7 linked regions of the Homo sapiens genome follow. The protein of the gene in region 2 purifies or fractionates together with the protein of the main gene of each other region. This does not show direct contact. Each region holds a gene or a part of one and is shown on either strand. Other genes may lie near its edges.

The links.
Region 1: the proteins of TRAP1 (region 2) and TXNRD2 fractionate together in Homo sapiens (co-fractionation; one large-scale study listed by BioGRID). This does not show direct contact.
Region 3: the proteins of TRAP1 (region 2) and DDX46 fractionate together in Homo sapiens (co-fractionation; one large-scale study listed by BioGRID). This does not show direct contact.
Region 4: the proteins of TRAP1 (region 2) and LTA4H fractionate together in Homo sapiens (co-fractionation; one large-scale study listed by BioGRID). This does not show direct contact.
Region 5: the proteins of TRAP1 (region 2) and SDHA purify together in Homo sapiens (affinity purification with western blotting, with the first as the bait; one study listed by BioGRID). This does not show direct contact.
Region 6: the proteins of TRAP1 (region 2) and EIF2AK4 purify together in Homo sapiens (affinity purification with western blotting, with the first as the bait; one study listed by BioGRID). This does not show direct contact.
Region 7: the proteins of TRAP1 (region 2) and AADAT fractionate together in Homo sapiens (co-fractionation; one large-scale study listed by BioGRID). This does not show direct contact.

What each region holds. Positions count from the first base shown.
Region 1 is NC_000022.11:19,931,819-19,935,318, forward strand, and holds part of TXNRD2 (thioredoxin reductase 2, mitochondrial isoform 5 precursor), read right to left. Parts: intron 1,913-3,500; exon of another isoform or gene 1,849-1,912; intron 1,709-1,848; exon of another isoform or gene 1,623-1,708; coding exon of another isoform or gene 1,616-1,622; intron 736-1,615; exon of another isoform or gene 552-735; coding exon of another isoform or gene 539-551; intron 1-538. UniProt on the Homo sapiens protein: Involved in the control of reactive oxygen species levels and the regulation of mitochondrial redox homeostasis. Maintains thioredoxin in a reduced state. May play a role in redox-regulated cell signaling.
Region 2 is NC_000016.10:3,672,525-3,676,024, reverse strand, and holds part of TRAP1 (heat shock protein 75 kDa, mitochondrial isoform 1 precursor), read left to right. Parts: exon of another isoform or gene 1-627; coding exon 628-701; exon of another isoform or gene 702-1,530; coding exon 1,531-1,686; intron 1,687-3,204; coding exon 3,205-3,325; intron 3,326-3,500.
Region 3 is NC_000005.10:134,828,200-134,831,621, reverse strand, and holds the end of DDX46 (probable ATP-dependent RNA helicase DDX46), read right to left. Parts: intron 2,964-3,422; coding exon 2,916-2,963; 3' UTR 501-2,915; downstream 1-500. UniProt on the Homo sapiens protein: Component of the 17S U2 SnRNP complex of the spliceosome, a large ribonucleoprotein complex that removes introns from transcribed pre-mRNAs.
Region 4 is NC_000012.12:96,018,588-96,022,087, forward strand, and holds part of LTA4H (leukotriene A-4 hydrolase), read right to left. Parts: intron 2,551-3,500; coding exon 2,498-2,550; intron 2,172-2,497; exon of another isoform or gene 2,105-2,171; coding exon of another isoform or gene 2,103-2,104; intron 654-2,102; coding exon 581-653; intron 317-580; coding exon 176-316; intron 1-175. UniProt on the Homo sapiens protein: Bifunctional zinc metalloenzyme that comprises both epoxide hydrolase (EH) and aminopeptidase activities. Acts as an epoxide hydrolase to catalyze the conversion of LTA4 to the pro-inflammatory mediator leukotriene B4 (LTB4).
Region 5 is NC_000005.10:249,320-252,819, forward strand, and holds part of SDHA (succinate dehydrogenase [ubiquinone] flavoprotein subunit, mitochondrial), read left to right. Parts: intron 1-1,672; coding exon 1,673-1,784; intron 1,785-2,018; coding exon 2,019-2,149; intron 2,150-3,500. UniProt on the Homo sapiens protein: Flavoprotein (FP) subunit of succinate dehydrogenase (SDH) that is involved in complex II of the mitochondrial electron transport chain and is responsible for transferring electrons from succinate to ubiquinone (coenzyme Q).
Region 6 is NC_000015.10:39,972,115-39,975,614, reverse strand, and holds part of EIF2AK4 (eIF-2-alpha kinase GCN2), read right to left. Parts: intron 2,708-3,500; coding exon 2,601-2,707; intron 2,024-2,600; coding exon 1,866-2,023; intron 1-1,865. UniProt on the Homo sapiens protein: Metabolic-stress sensing protein kinase that phosphorylates the alpha subunit of eukaryotic translation initiation factor 2 (EIF2S1/eIF-2-alpha) in response to low amino acid availability.
Region 7 is NC_000004.12:170,083,457-170,086,956, forward strand, and holds part of AADAT (kynurenine/alpha-aminoadipate aminotransferase, mitochondrial), read right to left. Parts: intron 1,538-3,500; exon of another isoform or gene 1,293-1,537; coding exon of another isoform or gene 1,269-1,292; intron 1-1,268. UniProt on the Homo sapiens protein: Transaminase with broad substrate specificity. Has transaminase activity towards aminoadipate, kynurenine, methionine and glutamate. Shows activity also towards tryptophan, aspartate and hydroxykynurenine.

The sequences.
Region 1 (3,500 bases), on a different chromosome or scaffold from region 2:
CACGTGCCTTTCAGTTGTGAAGGCTGCCCTCCGTCACAAGTGAGCAAGAATAAAAGCACAGGCTAGGGGCGGTAGCTCACGCCTGTAATCCCAGCACTTTTGGAGGCCAAGGCGGGTGGATCACAAGGTTAGGAGATCGAGACCATCCTGGCTAACACAGTGAAACCCCGTCTCTACTAAAAATACAAAAAAATTAGCCGGGCATGGTGGTGGGCGCCTGTAGTCCCAGCTACTCGGGAGGCTGAGGCAGGAGAATGGCGTGAACCCGGGAGGCGGAGCTTGCAGTGAGCGGATACCACGCCACTGCACTCCAGCCTGGGAGACAGAGTGAGACTCCGTCTCAAAAAAAAAAAAAAAAAAAAGAATAAAAGCACAAGCAGCCCCTGTCCCTCACAGCTGGCCAGTGCACACAGCCAGGGTCTTGGTGTGCCCAGCTGCAGTCAGCTAGGAGGGAAGCCACCCTGGGCACAGGGAGAGCTGCCTGGGCTCAGGTTTCATCCCTGGAATTCCTTTTGGGCTGGTTGTGGTGTCGCCTCACCTTGGTCCTCCATGGTGGCTCACTGCACATAGTGCCACTCTCAGCCTTTTTAGCCTGCAAAAGGTGTCATCGTGTCTACTCTGCAAGCTACTGGCGAGGAAGGCAGGCAAGGGGCAGCCAAAAAAGGGAGGGATGGAGAAGGGACTGGAGGGAGGAAGTAGAGAGGGGAAGTACACTGAACTGGGCCTGAGGTCCGGGACACCCAGCACCAGGCACCAGCCAACTCCCTGCTGAAGGAAGGAAGAAATAATAGCAAGTCATCAGTCTGCTGGGGTGAGGGCAGGGTGGGGACTGATGACAAGACTCTAGGGTATAAAACAAGTAGTGCCCTCAGCCCCTCTGCAGACACGAGCCTGCCCAGATGAGAAGCACCACCCTCCCAGAGCATCTGGAGCCGGTCGCTGCTTCAGACAAGGCCAAGAGGTTCCATGATCAGAGCAGGGTCTGTCATACAAGGCTGGGCAACCTGCCCAACACCTCCATCAGAGCCTAGCGTCTGCCATGAGAAGGCTGCACTTATCTTTGCAGCCACCTCCACCTTCCTAGGCAGGCAAGGCTGCAGAGAGTGTACTTGGAGTGTCATGTCTCTCCACACCCTGGCCCTGCAGATGCCCCACAGACAGGTCTAGAACATGCACTCCTAAAGGATACAAGAGCTGGAGCCTAGAGGAGCCCTGGCTCACAGCTGAGAAAGCTTGGGAAGCTGCATCCAGGCACTCAGGCCATGGCCTGCAGCGAGCCTGCCCCACAACCAAACCCACCCACTCTTTCACCTGGCAGCCAGCCTCTGAGTGCACGTGAGATGTGTGCGCACCTGCGGGAACTGACAGAGCCACAACTCGGTTCCAACAGCCAGTCCAAAGCACACTCAATTCCTAATTCAACTCAAGGGCTCTGGAAAGGCCTAAATTGTTGTAAATTATTCTAATGGCTTTAATATAAGTCTAGAGAACCAAGGACTGCTGGTCAGGGAGAAAATGCCACCAGGTCCCCCGGGGAGCATGAACCTGCTGATGGAGAAGCATCTCTCTCCTCCAGCTGCCTGGTAGCCGGAAGCTTTGCTCAGAACGTCCCTACCTTCCATGGCAGGTGCCTGTCCTTCTTGTTGCCATAGCAGGGCCCTTGTTAGGTCATCCTGCCCTGCAGCCTCGCACTGTGCCCCCTCTGTCTGCTATCAGGCAGGGTGAGCAGCTGTCTGTATGGATGTGCTTATCTTGGGCAGCTTGCTCGCCCCCTGTGCACACCCAGGAGCCCTCTCGGGCTGATAAACACTGGCATAGGGCAGTCGTTTGCAAGCATAGGAAATCTGCCTTTAAGCACTTGGAAGGGCTTGGGTAGCCTGCTGGGAAGGAAGGACCCCAAAGTACCTCAAAGGTGGGTAGGGCAGATGCTGTTCTGTGGGAGGAAGGGCTGGGTGGCAGGCGTTACCTGGGGACACACCACCTGTGCACTCCAGTGTCCTGGAGAACCTCATAACCTTGCCTTTCACCCACTTTAGCCAGGCATACCCTCTCCACCTGCAGGGCTTGGCCCCAGCAAGTGTCTGTCTTGCCTCTGCCTTCTGACATATTGTCCATTAATTTTCTGCTCCTCTTTGAACCCACTGCCTGGTACAGGCCAGCAAAGAGCAGGAGCCCAGAGCTCATAGCAAGGCCCAAGAGAATGCAGCACTGCACCAGTGAGGGCAAGTGGAAGGGTCCCCCAAAATGTGCACCCACAGGCAGGCTGGCCACCTCAGGGTGCCACCTCAGGGGCCCTCCTGTATGGCTGCTCTATCTAGAGCTCTTTCCTGGCAGCAGGTGTTGTCATTCTGGCTCCTGTTCAGGGGCTGCATCGCCCACCCACTCCAAGCCTGGGACAGTTCAGGTCTTCCTACTCTAAAAGGAGAAACTGCAGGGCCCACAGTCCCAGCTACTAGGGAGGCTGAGGCTGGAGGGTGAGTTGAACCCAGGAGTTCAAGGCTGCAGTGAGCTATGATAGCACCACTGCACTCCAGCCTGGTTAACAGAGTGAGACTCTGTCTCAGAAAAAAAAAAAAAAAAAAACTGCACCCCTAGTCTGGGTACAGTGGCTCACACCTGTGTTGCAGGAAGTCAGGAACCCCGAATGGAGGGACTGGCTGGAGCCGTGGCAGAGGAACATAAATAGTGAAGATTTCATTTCAATATGAACATTTATCAATTCCCAAGTAATACTTTTATACTTTTTTCTTTTTTTTTTTTTTGAGGCAGATTCTCTCTCTGTCGCCCAGGCTGGGGTGCAGTGGCACAATCTCAGCTCACTGCAAGCTCCGCCTCCTGGGTTCACACCATTCTCCTGTCTCAGCCTCCTGAGTAGCTGGGACTACAGGCACCCGCCACCACACCTGGCTAATTTTTTGTACTTTCAGGAGAGACAGGGTTTCACCATGTTAGCCAGGATGGTCTTGATCTCCTCACCTTGTGATATGGCTGCCTCGGCCTCTCAAAGTGCTAGGATTACAGGCATGAGCCACCGCGCCTGGGCCCCCAAGTAATACTTTTATAATTTCTTATGCCTGTCTTTATCTCTTAATCCTGTTATCTTCATAAGCTGATAATATACATCACCTCAGGACCACTGTGATAATTGTGTTAACTGTAGAAATTGATTGTAAAACGTGTGTTTGAACAATATGAAATCAGCGCACCTTGAAAAAGAACAGAATAACAGTGATTTTTAGGGAACGAAGACAACCATAAGGTCTGACTGCCTGTGGGGTCAGGCAAAAAGAGCCATATTTTTCTTCTTGCAGAGAGCTTATAAATGGACGTGCAAGTAGGAGAGATATCGCTAAATTCTTTTCCTAGCAAGGAATATTACTATTAAGACCCTGGAAAAGGAATGCATTCCTGGGGGGAGGTCTGTAAACGGCCACTCTGGGAGTGTCTGTCTTATGCGGTTGAGATAAGGACTGAAATACGCCCTGGTCTCCTGCAGTACC
Region 2 (3,500 bases):
CCCGGGCCCAGGCTCACTCTGGGATCCATGTGTGGCCTGGAGGCCACCAGGTCAGCAGGCATTTTCCCTGGTTCTACCTGCACGTAGGGTGCACAGGCAGAGCCGTGAAGGGCCGAGCCGCTGCGGGACTGGGAGGGGGGCTGCCCGCCAGGGCTGCGTAGCATCGAGCTCCTGCTGGGACTGGGAGGAAGCTGGCCTGGCTGAGGCGGACCTCCTCCTCCTTCCTCTGCGTGGCCCTTGGCCTTTAGTGCACCTGGGGGTTTGGCGCAGTCCTGTCCCAGGATGTGGGCGTGGCCTTCCCTCTTTGTGTCCTGCTGGACACTCAGGGAGGCCCTGAGTACCCCCAGGAGTCAGCCCAGAAAGCCATGTTCCAGCCACAAGCTGACATTGCAGTCTCGCAGCAGCCGGGGCCTCCACAGCTCTGGTTCTCACGTGGGCTCCGCTGCTGCCCCCGTGAGACTGGGGGGAGGACAGGTGTCCCCACTGTGCCCTGTTTCTGTACCTGTGAAGTGTACACAGCATGGAGGACCCTTCCCAGCAGGCTGGCGCTCATCCTGGAGCTGCTGCAAAGCTTGCGTTTCCACAAGCATTGTAGATGCAGTGTGGTTTTTCTTTTGTCCCTTCCAGATGTGGTAACGAAGTACAGCAACTTCGTCAGCTTCCCCTTGTACTTGAATGGAAGGCGGATGAACACCTTGCAGGTGAGCCCTGAGTTCCTCTAGGGACTGGTCAAACATGGAGACAAATCTGTACGTTTCAGGGCAGCGGAGAAGAGATGAGCCCAGGGGATGCGGCCCAGAGTCACAGGGCGAGCTGCTCTGTGGAGATGAGACCTGGGTGTGGGGATGAGACAGGGGCCCAGCTCTACCACAGCCCTGCCCCTGTGCACCGGGCAGCCGGGGTCAGGGGTCAGGGTTCACTGAGGCGTAACGCCCATCCCAGCTGGCTCACCACATCAGTGTGCAGCCATGGTGTTCAGTGCAGCCACAGAGCTGTGCAGCCACCCCGCATCAATTCCAGAACATCCCATCACCCCAAAAAGCAGCCCTTTCCCCACTGCCCCTCCCCCAGTCCCAGCAGCCACGGTCTCCTTTCTGTCCATTGTGCTGCCTGTTCCAGACGTTTCTCCTGGATGGAGTCACACGGCATGCTGTCCTCAGTGACTGACTTCCCCCTCGCGGCTCAGCTGCGGTGCAGCGTGGGTCGTCATCGCTCTCACGGCCCACACTGTATTCGTCAGCTCGCCCCTGCTGGGCAGCGTCATCCTCTCCCACAGGCCCCCTCAGGTCCCGGCTGGTCCTCCTGACATGTTGTCCTGAGGAGCTCCTGCCCCAGAGCCTTGTGTGTCTCCCCTGCACTACCCGGCATAGCCCAGCGGTGGGGCTGGAGAGGGGTCTACGCCTGAGACCACCGCCCGTCTGTCCCAGGAGCCTGTCCAGGGCCAGGCGCTGCACTGGCTCAGGCCTGCACGGTGGTGGAGAAGACGTGCGTGGTGAACACGACGCCCTCCCCGCCGATCTCCGTTTCCAGGCCATCTGGATGATGGACCCCAAGGATGTCCGTGAGTGGCAACATGAGGAGTTCTACCGCTACGTCGCGCAGGCTCACGACAAGCCCCGCTACACCCTGCACTATAAGACGGACGCACCGCTCAACATCCGCAGCATCTTCTACGTGCCCGACATGGTGAGGCACTGTGGCAGTCCCACGGCCCTCAGGGTGACTCTGTTGTCCCCTGTGGCATCAGCTCTGCAGATGTCACATGATTAACATGGCAGTGTGAGGGCATGAAAAACATAGGTAGTGCTGGGTGTGGTGGCTCACGCCTGTTATCCCAGCACTTTGGGAGGCTGAGGAGGGTGGATCACCTGAGCCCAGGAGTTGCAGACCAGGCTGGCCAACATAGTGAGACCCCATCTCTGAAAAAAAAGAAAAAAAGAACAGATGCCTCTGGGTGGGTAACCACAGAGGTTTCCTCTGTCTCAGGGGTCACACATGGCGAGGGAAGGATTGATGGGCATCTCAGTGCAGGCTGGGGTGGAGGCTTGTGGACTGGGGTGTGCCTGGGGAGGGCCCTCAGAGCCTACATCATCTGCTGTGGATCAGTGGATGCTGTCCTGCCAGGCGCTCTGGGAAGGGCCTGTGGTCTTGCCTCTCCGTTGGCCTCTCTGTGTGCTTCCTCCACACCCTCCACCTCCCCTGGTTTCCTTTACCACATTGAAGTTCCCGCAAATCCTGCCGTAAGGAGACCTATTCGGGGCTGAGAGCCAGCCCGTCCTGCCCCCAGGCTCTTCTGTCCTTGGCTGCCTGGAAACTCTCCTAATGTCCTGCACAGCTGGCATCCATCTTGGAAAGAGCCAGCCAGGTGTGGCCTCCAGGGGCTTGTTAGAGTCTCAGGCCCCACCCAGGGCTCCTGCGTGGGAGCCCACATTTTAATAAGATCTCCCCGCATTTTAACCGGATCCCCCCCATTTTAACCAGGTCGCCCCACATTTTAACCAGGTCTCCCAACATTTGAACTAGATACCCGCCGCATTTTAACCAGATCCCGTGATGAGGTGTGGGTCCCGGTTCGGGAAGTACCAGTGTGGAGCAGGTGTTGGCAGGCACGTTCCACGAGGGCCAGACAGGAGCTGGTCCCAGCGTTTCGGGCCCGGTGTCTTTCGTAGCCACTAACCCTGCCGGGTGAGGAAGCAGCACTGCCCTGCTGCCCTCTGAGCACACAGGGCCGGGTCCCATGAGCTGCGTAGACACTGAAATTTGAGTTTCATCTTCACGTCTCATGAGATCATCCTTTTTGAAATCTTTCCTCAACTGTTTGAAAGTGTAAAAACCACTCTTAGGCTACACAGAGGTAGGCAGTGAGCTGGATCTGGTCGGAGGGCTCTTTGCTGATCCCTGACCTGTAGCAAGGTTTGGCTGTGTTCAGTGTGTTCAGGGGTACGTGCAAGGTTCACTCTCTTGTGTCCTCCTTAGGGGGTGGGCTGGGGAGGGCGGCAGCTGCCAGAGAAGGCCTTCAGCCCCTGCAGAGCCACAGTGTGGGGCATCGTGGGGCCCCTGCACTGGGCTTCAACTCAGAGCAGACGCTGGGGGAGGGCGAGGCGGGAGTGGGCTCTGGATTCATCGTGTCCGCCCCCACCTCCCAGCCAGGGCCTGCCTGGGGAGGGTCAGTGCTGCATGATGGCGTGTTCTCCTCACCCCCAGAAACCGTCCATGTTTGATGTGAGCCGGGAGCTGGGCTCCAGCGTTGCACTGTACAGCCGCAAAGTCCTCATCCAGACCAAGGCCACGGACATCCTGCCCAAGTGGCTGCGCTTCATCCGAGGTACGCTGCTCAGAGTCCGTGAGCAGTGCCCCCGTGGCCCAGTGTCGCCCGCTGCATCTGTGAGGGACCGTGCTGATTCCATTCTCAGCAGCCCTCTGCAGCGAGAGCACCGCCGTCGGCCTGCGCTGCCTGTGTGTCAGTCGCGTTTACAGACCCCGGGAGCTGCCCCACCTCC
Region 3 (3,422 bases), on a different chromosome or scaffold from region 2:
CTCCCGGGTTCAAGCGATTCGCCTGCCTCAGCCTCCCGAGTAGCTGGGATTACAGGCATGTGCCACCACACCTGGCTAATTTTGTATTTTTAGTAGAGACTGGGTCTCTCCGTGTTGGTCAGACTGGTCCTGAGCTCCTGACCCCAGGTGATCTGCCTGCCTCAGCCTCCCAAAGTGCTGGGATTACAGGCATGAGCCACCGCACCCAGCCTACATATCCATTTTGTAAGAGTGTCACTGTGGCAAAACCCCAACTGGTAAATGAACCTATTATTTCACCTATGTTTCTCTTATGCTAAATACAATGAACATAAAAGACTTAAGAGCCTTCTTCAGGAAGACATTTTTGGAACAGAATTATAAATATTTTGGGTAATAAGTTGCTAGAATTTTTTAAATAAAAATAGAGAGTATAATACTTCTCTCACCAACATAAACAAAATTAGAGAAACAGAAGAAAGAAAAAGCATTGAGGAAAGATAATTTTAAGAAAGTGCAGATTGAATTCGAATTAATTTTATTTTATAAGGAATTTAGAAAACATGAGCAAATATTCATATTGCATTAAAAAAACAAAGTCTATATATCATTCAAATTTTAAAAGTCAGTGTGACACTAAAAAATGTACTAACAAAGTAATATGTTTCATTTTAGAACAAAATTTTATCAGTGGCTCATCACAACTGATATACAAACAAAATGCTAAAATGATGTAAAACTGAATCTCAAAGTGATCCAGTTGGATGAAGGGAGCACCAATTATCATCGATGTGGGACTGCCATATACTCTACCAAAGAAAACAAACTACCATTAGGTGATAAAGATGAGCAAATAAATAAACTAGAGGGAGGGAATGAGCCCACAATTTCTGAAATTTTACAGTAAGTGGTTTATTTGTTTCTGTTGTTACATGTCTTTTGTCTGTTTTCTTCCTTCAAGAAATTAAGTGGATGTGTGAAGGATCCAAGAATATTTCCCAGGTATATCTTACTTTTTCAGGAAGAATAACTTTATACTGAAGAAATAATGATTAATACTCCCTATCACTTCAGCCACTGAATATACTATTAAAATTATTTGTTTTTACAACTATAGTATGCTTTTATTTATTTATTTTTAAACTGTAAGTCAATAATATTTAAAGAATGAAAGTCTCTTCATTTAAGAAATATACAGTCATCCTTTGGTATGAGAGGGGGACTGATTGCAGGACACCCCTTAAACCCCTCCTCTATACCAAAATCCATGGATGTTCAAGCCTCTTATATGAAATGGCTTGCTATATGCATATAACCGATGCACATCCTCCTGTATACTTTAACCGCCTGTATACTGTAACCTTTAAATTACTTAAAATACCTAACACAATGTAAATGTTATAGTAAAACTTTTACAGCTGTTAAACTGTATTTTTAAAATTTTACATTCTTTTTTTCTTTTTTTTTTTTTTTCTATTTTTGATCTGTGGTTGGTTTAATCTGTGGGTTTGAAACCCTTGGATATAAAAGACTGACTTTATTTAACTCCTGAAAAAAATTCCTTTTTTGAAAAGTGACAATAACATGAAGTTAATACATCAGGAGTCTTGAAAAGAATATTAGGTAATCCAATTATAACAATTTAAATTAGAATATTCAGGAACTGTATCTTGAAGGCTCAAAAATACTATTTATTTATTTATTTATTTATTTTTGAGATAGTCTCACTCTGTCGCCCAGGCTGGAGTGCAATGGTGTTATCTTGGCTCAGATTCTTCTGCCTCAGCCTCCTGAGTAGCTGGGATTACAGCCACCCACCACCATGCCGACTAATTTTTGTATTTTTAGTAGAGACAGGGTTTCACCATGTTGACCAGGCTAGTCTTGAACTCCTGACCTCAAGTGATCTGCCCACCTCGGCCTCCCAAATTGCTGGGATACAGGTGTGAGTCACTGCGCCCAGCCTCAAAAACACAATTTATGATTCCTTGTGAATTAAATTTCACTAAGATGAAGCACATCTAAGTTTAAAACTTGGGTACCATTATGTTTTACAATTTTTAAGAAAGAAAATTCACAACCTACTCAATAATCCTGAAGAAAAATCAGATTAAAAGTAGTAGGATATTTGTACATACAACATGTATAGATATATAAATAAACACTTTCTAGAAGGAAAAGGTATCATATTTAGTATTTATAGGCTACACTCTTTCTTTTAAGGAAGATTATAAAAGAGGGGCTAGGTATGGAGCCAGAAGTTGTGAGGGAAACCTCAAAGTAGTAAATACTATAACTCTTTGTAGAGTTTTACACTCAGTGTAAAGAAATGCAAAAAAATCCTTATACTATTAAATCTTTACTTGTATAAAAACCGAAATTAGTCCAACTACTTTTTGCCCATTTATGATGATAAAAATTGAAACAAAAACTCTCAACCCATTTTGTAAGACTTCTATTATAACATTCTTAAATCCAGTTCATATTGTTCCAGAGTCATGTAACATCAAGGTGGGGACACAAAATATGATAGTGAATTTTACCTTTTCTTAGGAAATGATCACAATTTCATTGAAAGTACAGGATAAAGTGAATAGCCCCTTAACGACTTGTGTACTTTATTGTCTTCAATAGAAAGTTCAAATATTTCCATTTTTTAAACCTCTAGAATATTATCCGGACATTTAAAATATTGATATTTGAGTTTACATTAAAGGACATCATACTCTGAAAACAGGCTGGCTTTAAATATAGTTTGACTGATTGTGGGGGTACTTACGGACAGATTTCTTTACCAAGTACCAGTTTCTTATATTTAAAAAAAATCAGCAAGATAGAATTTAAAAAATCTTCATTTACAATACATTGTAAACTGCAGACAGCAACTGCCACATACATCATAGACCAGCACAGGTAAAAATCTTTTTTCCGGATGTCTATAAGACTTTGTATCTTCCTTTATTTGTTGGTTGGTATGAATTTTGCTGTAATAGGAAATAAAAGATATGTCATCAGAGAAAGCAAAACAAAAAAAACAAAAAAAAAAAACGAACCAACCAACCAACCAAACAAACCCAAAAGGAAATATTTAAGATCATTTCCTTTGCCAACTTATAAAACTATTGGTTATTTAAAATTTTAAATGTTACTATTACTGCATTGAGAAAGGAAAAACTATTCAATAACTAATGAATTCTCTGTTCACTCAACTATTCCTTAACAACTATGTTTTGAATCAACCTAATGGTGGTAGCATCTATGGGCACAAGATTCTTTTCGACCACTCCTTGGTGAAATAGTATTAAGCACATGATTTAACAGCTGTTTTACTTTTTCCCTCTTGTTTTGTGAACCCACTTTTCATTAAACTTCTAACCACCCCCACCCCCCAACAAAAAAAGGAATGCTCTGTGAGGGGAATTTTAGAAAAGCTCTCAGAATTA
Region 4 (3,500 bases), on a different chromosome or scaffold from region 2:
TAAACAATAAAATTAGAAACAAAGGTTACACGAACAAGAGAAAAGATTTTTATACATATATACATTATTAGGACTCTAAGGTTCTTTACATATATATACATATTATTAGGACTCCTAAGGTTCTTAAGTTTATTTTTGAAACGTCAATTTCAAATGAAGAAACATTTACACTTACCAGTAGAGTAGGAGTTACAAAAGTAAGGCAAGGATTCTCCATGCCACCATAAGGGAAGGATGGTGGCAGGACCAATAGGTCATACTGTCCCCATACATACGGTCCTCCCAGATCTTCTGCTATTTTAAGCATAGATTCAGTCTGAAAAATCAACATATATATGTCTGTATGCCTTAATTATCACCATTGTACATTTCTTAAAATTGTATATTGCTTTCTATGAAGGTTACAAGTTAATGATTTTTATGTTAAATGAAAATGATAAAAAGAATGTAGCAACTACACATCTACATAAAAGACAATCTGGTTCTTTCCCCGTATCACTTAAAACCATCACATTTCACACTCAAAATCTTCAATCTACTGTCTATCACAATGATTACAAAGGATAACTAAATGACCAACCTCAGAAAACTCATAAGCAGACTTTTCCACCTGCTCTTTCTCAGACCACACCAAAGTTCTTGGGCCAATTTGCCTGCAAGATTAAAAAGCTTAATAAAAAAGAAATTCATGGCAAATGATTCATCTGGTTCTAAAAAGTAGTTAATGTCTTGTAGACAAACCTTTACAGTGAGAGTGCATTTACCATGTGCCTATGGGAAAGGGATGAGGTTACATGGCGTGAGCTGCAAACCTGCTGTTGTATATGCAGCAATAGATATGCAGCTCTCTAAGGAGGTACAGGCTGGGCCAAAGGAAAAAAACCAAGACATAAGGTGTCCCCAATTAGTTTATTGCCTCTTGTAAGACCTCTTGAGGGTCTCATTTCATCCCTCAATTTCACAACTATAGAAACCCAGTCACAACTCATAAGAAACTATTTTTTTTTTTTTTTTTTTTTTTTGAGACGGAGTCTCGCTCTGTCACCCAGGCTGGAGTGCAGTGGCACGATCTTGGCTCACTGCAAGCTCCACCTCCCAGGTTCACACCATTCTCCTGCCTCAGCCTCCCTAGTAGCTGGGACTACAGGTGCCCGCCACCACGCCCAGCTAATTTTTTCTTTTTTTTGTATTTTTAGTAGAGACAGGGTTTCACTGTGTTAGCCAGGATGGTCTCAATTCCCTGACCTCATGATCCGCCTGCCTCGGCCACCCAAATTGCTGGGATTACAGGCGTGAGCCACCACGCCCAGCGTTTTTTTTTTTTTTTTTTTTAAATATACAGGGTCTCATTCTGTTGCCCAGGCTGAGTACAGAGGGGCCATCACAGCTCACTGCAGCCTCCACCTCCTGGGCTCAAGCAATACTCCCACCTCAGCCTTCTGAGTAGCTGGGACTACAGGCATACACTACCATGCCCGATTAATTTTTTATTTTTTTGTAGAGACATGATCTCACTTATGTTGCCCGGCCTGGTCTTGAACTCCTGGGCTCAAGCGATCCTCCCACTTTGGCCTCCCAAAGTGACGGGATTACAGGCATGAGCCACAGAGCCCAGCCTGTAAGACTATTCTAGAACAGGAATGGGTATAAACTTTGTCATGCACTTAAAGGTTGAATACTCTTATATAAGAAGAAACAAATAGAAAATGAAGGAAATCCTGTCAGATGCTATAACGTGGATAAACCTTAAGGGCATTATGACACCTTGAATGAAATAAGCCAGACACAAAGAGATAAAATCATACTGTATGATTCTACTTATGTGAGGTATCTAAAGTAATCAAATTCATAGGAACAGAAAATAGAATGGGTGTTACCAAGGACTGGGCGGTGGGGGAAAGAGGAGCTATTGTTTAATTGGTGCAGAGTTTCAGTTCTGCAAAATGAAAAATTTCTGAAGATCTGTTTCACAACAATGTGGATATACTTAACACTACTGAACCGCACACTTAAAAACAGTTAAGTGTGCTTAAAACTAAGAATGAACAAAAAATTAAGAAGGAAGGGCACTTTATTTGTAAAATATTGATAAAATATCTTACATTTCTGTAATATTTGTAGGCTTCCAAGTTCTTTAATATATTTTATCTCATTTGTTTCACATAACCACCCTATGAGGTAGAAAGTCAGACATTATAATTTCAAGGATAAGGAAACAGAGATTGAGAGTGACTTGTTCAAGCTTACATGAGAATCCAGATCTCTAAAGGTAAGAGCATGCTCATTTTACAATACTTGAAAAAATAAGGGGTAACTGGTCAAGATTTTTAAATGTAAAATTAATTTGTTGCCTACATTTTAGATTTGAATTTTTCTAGAGCTGTCAGCTTGATATCTTGAGAAATATGCAAATGATTGACCAATTAACCTTGAGAGAAGTTCAAGATGCCTAAGTTTTGATCTTTCCACAAACCTGAAAATTTTTCCAAAAGCTCACCTGCTTTCTAAAGCTCCAACAACTAAAGCAATCAGGTAGCAGGGTATTGGAACCTAAAGAGGGCAAACAAACGCACACCACGTGCTTGCATTAGTGTTCACAAATGTTACACAGTAAGACAATTCATATTTAAAAGTAAGTAAATTCCCTTTCAAATCTCCTAATATTAGTAGGGATAACTTTGCTTTTATACTTCTCAAATAGTTCTCATCTTTAACATATAGCTTAAAATTGTGATATAAAACATTGTTCAAAACATCTATTTGCCTTTTATTCTGCTAGGAACAAAAGCTTCTCACACATGAAAAACAAGATCACACATACTATTAAAAGGTGCATTTTGAGCATTTCTCAAAAAGTAACCTACAGGAAGCGCATTTCCCATATGTTTGCCTTTTTCCTCCTGACTTTTAAAAGGTTTTGGTTTTCTTTTTTTATTCCTTTATGTTTCAAAGCACTATTGGCATGTTGTAGAGGCACACAGAGTTACCCGGCAATAAGTAGATGCCAAAGTTATGGGAGCTTGGAACCACAGAAGCTGCAGTGGAAGTCAAATTATCCATTGTGAGGTCAATTAAGAAAACACACACACACACACACACACACACACACACACACTCACGCATGCATACACATTCTGTTCACTGAAGGTCAAAGATACATGTCTAATGACCAGGACTGTAACTGAGTGCTTTTTTGGTCTTGACTCCTCCATTTGTAAACACTCTCAACAGCCACTTGCCCACACTGTAGTACCAGGGCAGGTGAATGCGTAAGAACTCAAAAGAACAGGAAGCCAGCCCCTGAACTGGAGTGAGGGAAAATGAAAACAGGTATGCTCCCTATTCTGTCTCTACAGCAAACCCTCTCTTCAATACAACACTCTGTAAGTAGAACAAAACCCTTTAAAAGCACAAAAGAAAAAAAAATGAAGAAAACAAAAACCAAAAGCTGTTCTCAAAATTCTGAAATATTTCAAAAGTAATTTTGCCCTCTGGATGTG
Region 5 (3,500 bases), on a different chromosome or scaffold from region 2:
GGACACGTTGGGAACAGGCCCCCCAATGTGGCCATAAACTGTCCCCAAAACTGGCCATAAACAAAATCTCTGCAGCACTCTGACATGCTCTTGATGGCCATGATGCCCACGCTGGAAGGTTGTCGGTTTACTGGAATGAGGGCAAGGGACACCTGGCCCACCCAGGGTGGAAAACCGTTTAAGGCATTCTTAAACCACAAACAATAGCATGAGCGATCTGTGCCTTAAGGACATTTTCCTGCTGCAGATAACTAGCCAGAGCCCATCCTTTTGTTTCCCGTAAGGAATACTTTTAGTAAATCTTATCACTGGCTTGCTGTCAATAAATATGTGGGTAAATCTCTGTTCAAGGCTCTCAGCTCTGAAGGCTGTAAGACCCCTGATTTCCCACTTCACATGCTGTATTTCTGTGTGTGTGTCTTTAATTCCTCCAGCACCGCTGGGTTAGGGTCTCCACAACCGAGCTGGTCTCAGCAGTAAATATTGAAAAGGAATAGATACAATTGTCATTATTTACAGATAGAATTTCCAAACAATTCCCAGGGAATAAACTGAAAAACTAACAGAAACAAAACAAGAATGTAGTAAGGTGTCTGGATAAGAGATTTGTATCTAAAAATCAGTAGCTTTACAATGTGCCAGCAGTAGTCTGCTCAGACATCAGTAAATATCTCATTCACATTTCAAAAAAAATTGAAAATGCCCTGAAATAATGTAACCAGAAATACGAAAAAAAGGATATGAAAACATGTGGCTGCTAATGGACATGAAAGAATGTAATACTAGATTCTGAGATGCAATGTTTTTCATTTGTTCTTCCTGAAAAACCATTAGGTTGATGTGCATTACAGTGTTACGATTATGTATGAGTCTAAGGAAAATCAGATGAAATGTCCAAATTAAACCATGAAGGTGCATTGGTAGAGGAAGAGAAAATTAGGGTCAGTGGAGCAAAGCACAGTTAGAGGGAGAAGCAAGGAGGAGGAGGGATCACTGAGGTGGTGCCTGTCCCACAGGAAGCAAAAGCTGACGCCTAGTTCCCAGCATACCTACAGTAAACTTCAGGTCCACTGCATAGCACGTCTCTCATCACAGTAAAACTATGAAGGAACTCAGTGTACAAGGAGCTTCTACAAGATAGGCAGAAGACAGTAGCCAGATGGGCCAAGGGCCCCAGCCACCCACGCCCCTCCCTCTCCTTGAAGACGTGCAGCTCCAACACCACCATCACCAGGGCTCTGCTCAGCTCCTCCTAGTGTGTATCACCACAGGGCTGCTGGCTTGTGTCACGTTCACCACCAGACCCCGCGTCAGGAGTCCCGCCAGGGGTGTGGAGAGGCAGCGCTGCCTGGTTGGCCGTGGAGCTGTATGGAACATGGTGCCTCACAGGCAGTCTGCTTGGAGTCCTGGACCCTGGCTGTATCCTGCTGGAAAGGATGTGTGTGGGTCTAAGATGTGTATGTAATAGAAACATTTATTTATTCAGAAGCTTTAGTCAAAACTTCATTTTTAAGTTTGGAGTAATAAACTCATAGTCTGAATTTCCTAATTTTTCTGTTTAATTTATGTAACTTTTAAGTGAAATGCAAAACAACAGGTCTAAAAGTTAAGCAGTTCTTGGTATGGCTGCTTCTATGGATTAAAAGTTTACAAATAATATTTTGTGCCACAGTCAATGCAAAATCATGCTGCCGTGTTCCGTGTGGGAAGCGTGTTGCAAGAAGGTTGTGGGAAAATCAGCAAGCTCTATGGAGACCTAAAGCACCTGAAGACGTTCGACCGGGGTGAGCAGACAGTGGGCTCTGTGCACACTGTTGGGCCCTTCCTTCTGCAGGGTGGGCTGGTGTCTGTCCCGTCAGTGCTGACTTAGTTCCGTGCTTGCTGTCTGGATGGGTCCTGGCCCACAGCTATAAAGCCACAACCAGTGACTCCATGGACTAGCAGGCCCAGGCTGACAGCTCGGAGGGCCCATGTGACTGGGTCCCGCCTGCCCCTGATGGAACTTTTTGTGTCCCCAGGAATGGTCTGGAACACGGACCTGGTGGAGACCCTGGAGCTGCAGAACCTGATGCTGTGTGCGCTGCAGACCATCTACGGAGCAGAGGCACGGAAGGAGTCACGGGGCGCGCATGCCAGGGAAGACTACAAGGTGGGCCTTCTCACCACGCCCACCTGCACCTGCCTTTTCCTGCCACCTGGTGGGACTCAGCCCCACCCCTGCATTTTCTCTGCATTTTCTTTCGTTGCCCCAAAAGTAAATCCAAAAAATGCCTTTTTCCCCCCTGGTAACTTTGATCCCTGGGTTCTCGCCATCTTCTGGATCACTGTGACCTTTTCCTTGCTTTGGGTCGGCATCCACTGATGCCAGCAGTGGCATCTCCAAGCCAATGTGCTTTGCTGTTAGAAGGCCAAGGTTAGAAGTGCAGCTAGAGTGGCAAGACCAGGAAATAAATGCCAGTTTATTAAATAACGAGTAAGCCATCATTTCAAGCCTGCCCTGTGGAGGAAATGCCAGTTTATTAAATAACGAGTAAGCCACCGTTTCAAACCTGCCCTGTGGAGGAAATGCCAGTTTATTAAATAACGAGTAAGCCACCGTTTCAAACCTGCCCTGTGGAGGAAATGCCAGTTTATTAAATAACGAGTAAGCCACCGTTTCAAGCCTGCCCTGTGGAGGAAATGCCAGTTTATTAAATAACGAGTAAGCCACCGTTTCAGACCTGCCCTGTGGTGGAAATGCCAGTTTATTAAATAACGAGTAAGCCACTGTTTCAAACCTGCCCTGTGGAGGAAATGCCAGTTTATTAACGAGTAAGTCACTGTTTCAAACCTGTCCTGTGGAGGAAATGCCAGTTTATTAACGAATAAGCCACCGTTTCAAACCTGCCCTGTGAAGGAAATGCCAGTTTATTAAATAAGGAGTAAGCCACCGTTTCAAGCCTGCCCTGTGGAGGAAATGCCCGTTTATTAAATAACGAGTAAGCCACCGTTTCAAGCCTGCCCTGTGGAGGAAATGCCCGTTTATTAAATAAGGAGTAAGCCACCATTTCAAGCCTGCCCTGTGGAGGAAATGCCAGTTTATTAAATAACGAGTAAGCCACCGTTTCAAGCCTGCCCTGTGGAGGAAATGCCAGTTTATTAAATAACGAGTAAGCCACCATTTCAAACCTGCCCTGTGGAGGAAATGCCAGTTTATTAACGAGTAAGTCACCGTTTCAAACCTGCCCTGTGGAGGAAATGCCAGTTTAGTAACGAGTAAGTCACCGTTTTAAGCCTGTCCTGTGGAGGAAATGCCAGTTTATTAACGAGTAAGCCACCGTTTCAAACCTGCCCTGTGGAGGAAGTGCCAGTTTATTAAATAATGAGTAAGTCACCGTTTCAAGCCTGCCCTGTGGAGGAAATGCCAGTTTATTAAATAACGAGTAAGTCACCGTTTCATACCTGCCCTGTGGAGGAAATGCCAGTTTATTAACGAGTAAGCCACCGTTTCAGACCTGCCC
Region 6 (3,500 bases), on a different chromosome or scaffold from region 2:
CCAGGCAGTTTCACTATGTAATTGGGGTGACTGAAGTAACTTTTACAGAGTCTTATTCACTGAAACCTTGTAGTCACATCCGTGCAGGTCAACTGAGGTGATGATATACTCTAGAAAAGCAAATGCCATGTGGCCATGGGTGGCAGGAGAAATTAGTTGATTACAAAACACAAAACAGAATATCATTCTCTTGTTTGGCTCACAAGTTTCAATTAAACTAATAAAAGTCTAAGTGAAGTCCTGGGAATAAGAAGGAAGTACTACAAAATTGAGTTTCAGATTATCTTTTTTTGTATGGAAATAGTGACAAGAACACACACTTTGTAGTACAACAGAGGTGGGTCTGAATGCTGGTTTTATCTCCCTTATCTCAGGCAAAGGACATAACCTTCTCTGAGCTTCAGTTCCCTCATCTAGGGAATGAGGATCATACCCATCTCGTAAGAATGTCCTGAGATTTAAAGACAAGGTTTGTAAATCACCTGGCACACAATCTGAAATATGGCAGGTGCTCCAAAAAATGATAGCCCTGTGTTCTTTTACTGCCACATTAATAGGGAAGAGGACAGTGTAGGGCGGGAGGTGGGGATCTTGGCATTGCCTTTCGATCTCCTGTCTCAGTACACATCATATACGAACTGGGTTGGGAGTAAAGCTTGCTATACTGGAAACCCCTAGGAATTCATTTACTGAAGTGAAAAGGTGCAGAAACAGTAATGGGTCCAACTGCTAATGAATGCCAGATCACTGGGCAGGCTGCCCTACTCTGACACAGAAGCACAGAGGTAGGAGGTGAGGGCTGTGGATTCTCACAGGGAGAAACTACTGGAAACCGTGGGGGCTTAAGTTACTCAGATGTTTTTGTTATATGAGCTTGCCTATCATTATTAAGTACTTGTAAAGAGATGAAATTTGTTACTATTCTACGTTCAAGAATTTAAAATAGAATGAAGTTAAAGGATTTGATCAAAATGATATTGTGTTAAAGGGACAGTATACGCTTCAATCATCCCCTCCTCTTAGACATAATTATGATCTTTCTGATCAGGACATCTGTCTTGCTTGTCTGTCTTTTACCACAGGAAAACTAATTTAATTCCTTTTTTAGTGTAAAAGTTTTTCTACAGTAACAGTAATGCTTCCTAATGATACTCTCAGAATCCTTAACAGACAATATACTCAGTTGATGGTGGGTTACCTTCATATGTGAAAGATGACATGTACTGTATATGGACTTAATACAATAATCTGGGTCTCCTAATTTACAAAGAAATACTTCTATTATATAAAAACAGCTGAAACCTCTTTCTACAAGGGGCAGATAATAATAAAAGTCACCCAAATAGACTAGAACGAAGAAAGGAAGACCCAACAACAGTGTACCTTAATAATACATCGCTACTTTCCTGTCCCAATAATAGCTGGAAAATAAAAGCCATCGAGACCTGCTGGGGCCATCTCCCAGTTTGAAGTCCATCTCTCTTCTAACCTTAGAACCTTTTTATCTACAGCAACTCTAACAGCAAACAGGAGAAAAAAAGAACAATGTTCTTTCTGAACCAAAGCACACAAAAATGTTCTTTCTGTGGAGGTCTTGATTCCACTTGAAGTGCTGTTATAACCATGTGTGTTTCATGTTAATGCTCCACATGAAGCAAGGAAAGAGGAGTGGGACAATTCTCAACTGTGTCCAGCGTAACTTAAATAAAACCTTTAACTCCAGGAAGGTGAGGATGAGCATAGTATCCAACAGCCATATTCACTTCCCTCCCCACTCCCAAAATAAAAGTAAAGTCCATGAGTCTTTGTGGAAATGGAACAGAGAAGGAGCTCTAAAGGGGACTGGGAATGACTCTGTACCACACCTTGATGACAGCTCCAAAAGCTCCTTTACCAAGAAGTTGTAATTCTTCAAACTCAATGAAGTATCGGGAAAACTGTCTCTGTGTCTCACTAAAGAAGGCAGCACTGGGTAGCCGGTTGCTAGGAATAACAGTCTCAACATAATCTTGTCCTTCAGAATCTGAGATAAAACAGGGAGTAAGAGGCACATGAGGCATTGGAAATTTAGGAAGAGCTACATAGCCAACAATGATGGAAGCCCTGGAAGAAGAGCTCCAACCAGTAGTTTGAAAAATTACCTCTTACCTGAGTGGCCTTTTAAAACTTTTCCTCACCTTGCCCTCCTTAAAGTAGGCAGAAATATATAATTAGCCCAAGTTTACAGGTGGGGGATTATATAGAATAAGTGACTTAACTATAGAGCTAGAACCAAAACTCAGGTCTCATGATCCATCCCAATCTCTACCGAGGTTCCTTAATCTCAGGTGCAGCAGGAAAAATCTAGTTACATGGCACTATGGGTGACTAAACACTACAAGAGACTACAGCAATGGACATTCATTCCATCAATAGAGACTAGAAAAATCAGGGTGGCAAAACAGTCCCATGCACATGGCACACATCAAACTAATGGATTTAGTTCAGAATAAAAGACATAAAATAACACATGCAGCCCCTTCCAGTTTTTGGTTTATGTATACTTTCAAAATAATTTAATGTCAAACAGGTTACCAAATAAAGAAAGGTAACAGACTCACCTTCAGGACTTTGTTCCACTAGAGGCATTTTTGGCTGGGGATTTATAAAGCTGTGTTTCAACAACTGCTGGGGACTCCATCTTTCCTTGTCATCCAAGCACACACATCTCGGTGAGAGGGAAGGAAGAATCTTAGCATCACAAACAATCAGTGCTAAACTAGTTAATCCAAGGCATTAACTATGGGTTTATTTTTTAAAGATACACATTATAGAATTCATGTTACTCAAAGACCAGAATGTACTCTCATAGGTGAATTTAAATTAATAAACATTCCTGCAGGATTTACATGCTATGCGACAGGCTGGGTACAAGAGGCGAATCAAAAAAAGGCATCTCTAGATGAGAAGACTTACCCTCATGGAACAATTTTTTAAAAGTCTAAGGTAGCACAAGTAGGCTATAAATTTTCACCTCGATGAACAGTTTAATGCCTTGTCATGCCAAACTAAGCCTTTGCAGGAACCGGTTATAAATAAAGCTTTCGAAAGACAAAGCAAATCAGAGAGTTGGTGCAGCAGAGTGGCTCAGTATGACGAGCTTTAGATGAAGCCTGCTCATTACAGGATGAAGCAAGTTGGAAACATTTAGGGAAGGCTTTTTTAAAGTCCCATATTCTATTGCATACTTTTTTTAAAAATTGGTTTATGCTTTTTTTTTTTTTTTGAAATAGGGTCTTGCCGTATCGCCCAGGCTGCAGTGCAGTGGTGTGATCTCAGCTCATTCCAACTTCTGCCTCCCGGGCTCAAGCAATCCTCCCATCTCAGTAGCTGGGACTACAGGCAGGCACCACCAGGCCTGGCTAATTTTTATATTTTTTGTAGAGATAGGGTTTCACCACACTGCCCAGGCTGGTCTCCAACTCCTGAGCTCAAACAATCTGCCTGTCTCGGCCTCCCAA
Region 7 (3,500 bases), on a different chromosome or scaffold from region 2:
AATGCACTTCAAGGAACTAGAACAACCTACAGGAGAGGAGAAAATATTTGCGAACTACCCATCTGACAAGGGATTAACAAGTCAATAGCAAAACCCCCAAATAATCCCATTAAAAATTGGGCAAAAGATCTTAACAGACATTTCTAAAAGAAGACATAAAAACGGCCAAAAGGCATTAAAAAAGTTCAATATTACCAATGCAATCAGAAAAACCTCAAAACCACAATGAGATATTACCTAACCATATTCAAAATGGCTAGTTTCAAAACGACAAGTGATAACAGATGCTGATGAGGGTAGAGAAAGGGGAACCTTTATACACTTTAATGGAAATGTAAATTGGTACAGCCACTATGGAGAACAGTACAGAGGTTCCTCAAAAAACTGAAAATAGAACTACCATATAATCCTGCAATTCCACTGCTGAGTATATATCCAAAACAAAAACATCAATATATCAAAGAAGTATCTGCACCTCCATGTTTATTATGGCACTTATTCACAATAGCCAAAATATGGAACCAACCTAAGTGTCCATCAGCTGATGAATGGATAAGGAAAATGTGGTATACACACAATGGAATATTATTCAACCATAAAAAAGGAATAAAATCCTGTCATTTGCAGCAACATGGATAGAAATGGAGGTCATTATGTTAAGTGAAATAAGCCAAGTATAGAAACACAAATATTGCATGTTCTCCCTCATCTGTGGGAGCTAAAAAAGTGGATCTCATAAGGATAGAGAGTAGATTGGTGGTTACCAGAGGCTGGAAAGGACAGGAGGGAGATAGGGTGAAGGAAAAATAAAGAATATAAATGTACTTATTACCACTGAACTGTATACTTAAAAATGGCAAGGATAGCAAATCTTATATGTGTATTTTATGGCAACAGAAAAAATTAAAAATTAATTTTTTAAAATAAAATGGATGGGGAGATCAACGGAGTTAAAGAATATTTCTAGGTCAAGTAATAAAAGGTTTGACAATCTTTGTAAATTATGTGGATAATATGATTTCTACTACAATCACTAGAGCCAGGCAATAGATTTTTCCAGCCTAAATCAAAGGGGTCTATTATGACTAAATCATACATAAGTCACAGAATAATTGCTTCTTAACTTGTGATGTTTCACAATCCCCAGTTTGAGTCCTTTTTCCTATCACTTTAACAACCCACATCTCACCACAAACAGTAGGGCCATTATCAATTGAGATAGAAGATTTGACTTTTGTTCCCCAACTGACCTGTGATGTTGAATTTACCTTTTCCTTATGAGCTTTTGGCATCTTATGACAAACAGTATCCTCCTCCGAAAAGTTTCTAATTGACTTAAGCTTTACAAGACATCCTAGGACCAAAGGAATCACTTGGGTGGCAGCACGTACATATCAACAGATCAAATGAAAACCTAATTAGCGTTGATCCTTGAACAACATAGATTTGAACTGCACAGGTTCACTTACACGCACAGTTTCTTCTGCCTCTGCCTCCCGTGAGACAGCAAGACCAACCCCTCCTCTTCCTCCTTCTCCTCAGCCTAAGCAACATGAAGATGAGGATGAAGACCTATATGATGATCCACTTCCACTTAATGGTAAATATATTTTCTCTTGCTCATGACTTTCTAATACCATTTTATTTTCTCTAGTTTACTTTATTGTAAAAATATAGTGTACAATACATATAAAATATAAAATATGTGTTAATTGACTATATTATCAGTAAGGCTTCTGGTCAAGAGTAGCCTATTGGTAGTTATGTTTTGGAGGAGTCAAAAGTTATATGCAGATTTTCAACTGCATGGAGTCATTGCCCTTAAACCCCTGCGTTGTTCAAGGGTCAACTGTAAATATATTTTTCATATCAGTTAGGGGACATACAAATTTCAAATATCCTAAATTAGAAGGGAAGGCTGTTTATCATCTGGGAGCACTGTTTAAAAGATGAGAGAGAAACACAGGAGTCTAAAATAACATGACTCCTGGAGAACAAAGTGGAAGAAATATTAAACCAGATACATATTAGTGCCCCTATAATAAGCATGTCTGTAAGTAGTAAGTTATTGACGTATTTAGCAATCTATGCTATCTTCCTTTTTTGTGTAACTGGTGTTGTGATGGATAAAGAAGAAACTGTCTTGAGCAACTTTCTGGAAGAAAAAGTCCATAGTATCCTTTCTTGAGGAAAGAATTTATTTCATTAAAAAATACTCTTATATCATTCTATACAATCACAAATGTTTCTCTTCAAGCAAAGACTCAAACACTAGCTAATTCTTTTACTTTTCCTAATTAAATACAAAAAGGGTAAGTTTTTTTAATTTTTAAAAACTTTAAAAAATGTTTTTACTACTGTAACCCATTATTCTGTAACAATAATTTAATTAAAATTCATTAAAGCAAACCAGATTACAGTTTTCATATTTCCATGAAAAAGAAAACTACTCTGGTTTAAGATAAAGATAAATGGGAGTCATAGATTAATTTAGATCTGAGAATGAATATAGAGAATCTTATTATTCATGGAAAACAAAGGAGAAAATATACCAGCACTTTGGGAGGCCAAGGTGGACAGACTGCTTGAGCCCATGAGCTCAAGACCAGCCTGTCCAACATGGCAAAGGAATATAAAAATTAGCTAGGCATATTGGTGTGCACCCGCAGTCCCAGCTACCTGGGAGGCTAAGGTGGAAGAATTGTTGGAGCCCAGGGAGGTCGAGACTGCAGGGAGCCGTGATTGCGCCACCGCACTCCAGTCTGGGTGACAGGGTGAGACCCTGTCTCAAAAAAAAAAAAAGAAAGAAAAGAAAATAACAGATCAAACTGAGGACCACAGATGTGGTCTCTTTATTGTGGCAACTAACCAGTGGTGTTTACATCTGTGGAGTTCCCGGAACCCAGAAGGGAAGAAGATGGAATAACTAATGCCAGGGGGAGAGGGAGAGAGAACCAATCCATATAAGAAGTCAGAAATACAGACATATAAATAGATCTAGAGAAATACACCCAAGAGGGGGACAAGATACAAGCAGTGGCAAGGAGAGATTCTACAGACAGATATGTAAAAGAATATAAATATGTGTATCTCAGGAATATGAAAGCATGCCCTCTAAAAAATTTAAAAATTGTATTGAAATTTCCTAACTATAGGCGGAAATCAAACGTAACTTGAATTTTTGAGCCAGATGAAATTAAGCAGTGTTCACTAAGCTTTTGGTAGGAGTTGAGTACTCCCTTAGTGGGCATCCTGCTTTAATGGTTAATAGGTCTGGGTAATTGACCACATGCTCTGTATTTAATATTTAAGAAAGATTAGGCTAGTGAATGATGTTAAGAGCAGGTAATTTTTCAAAGTCCTTGTGTTCACAATGAGGAAAACTAGGGGGAAATATTGATAGATCAACCTACAATATTTCCACCTGGCTTTTGCTTACAGTCAACACCCCCTACCCACCCTTGCCCATCCCCGGCCACAACTGCTCCCACCCCCATCCT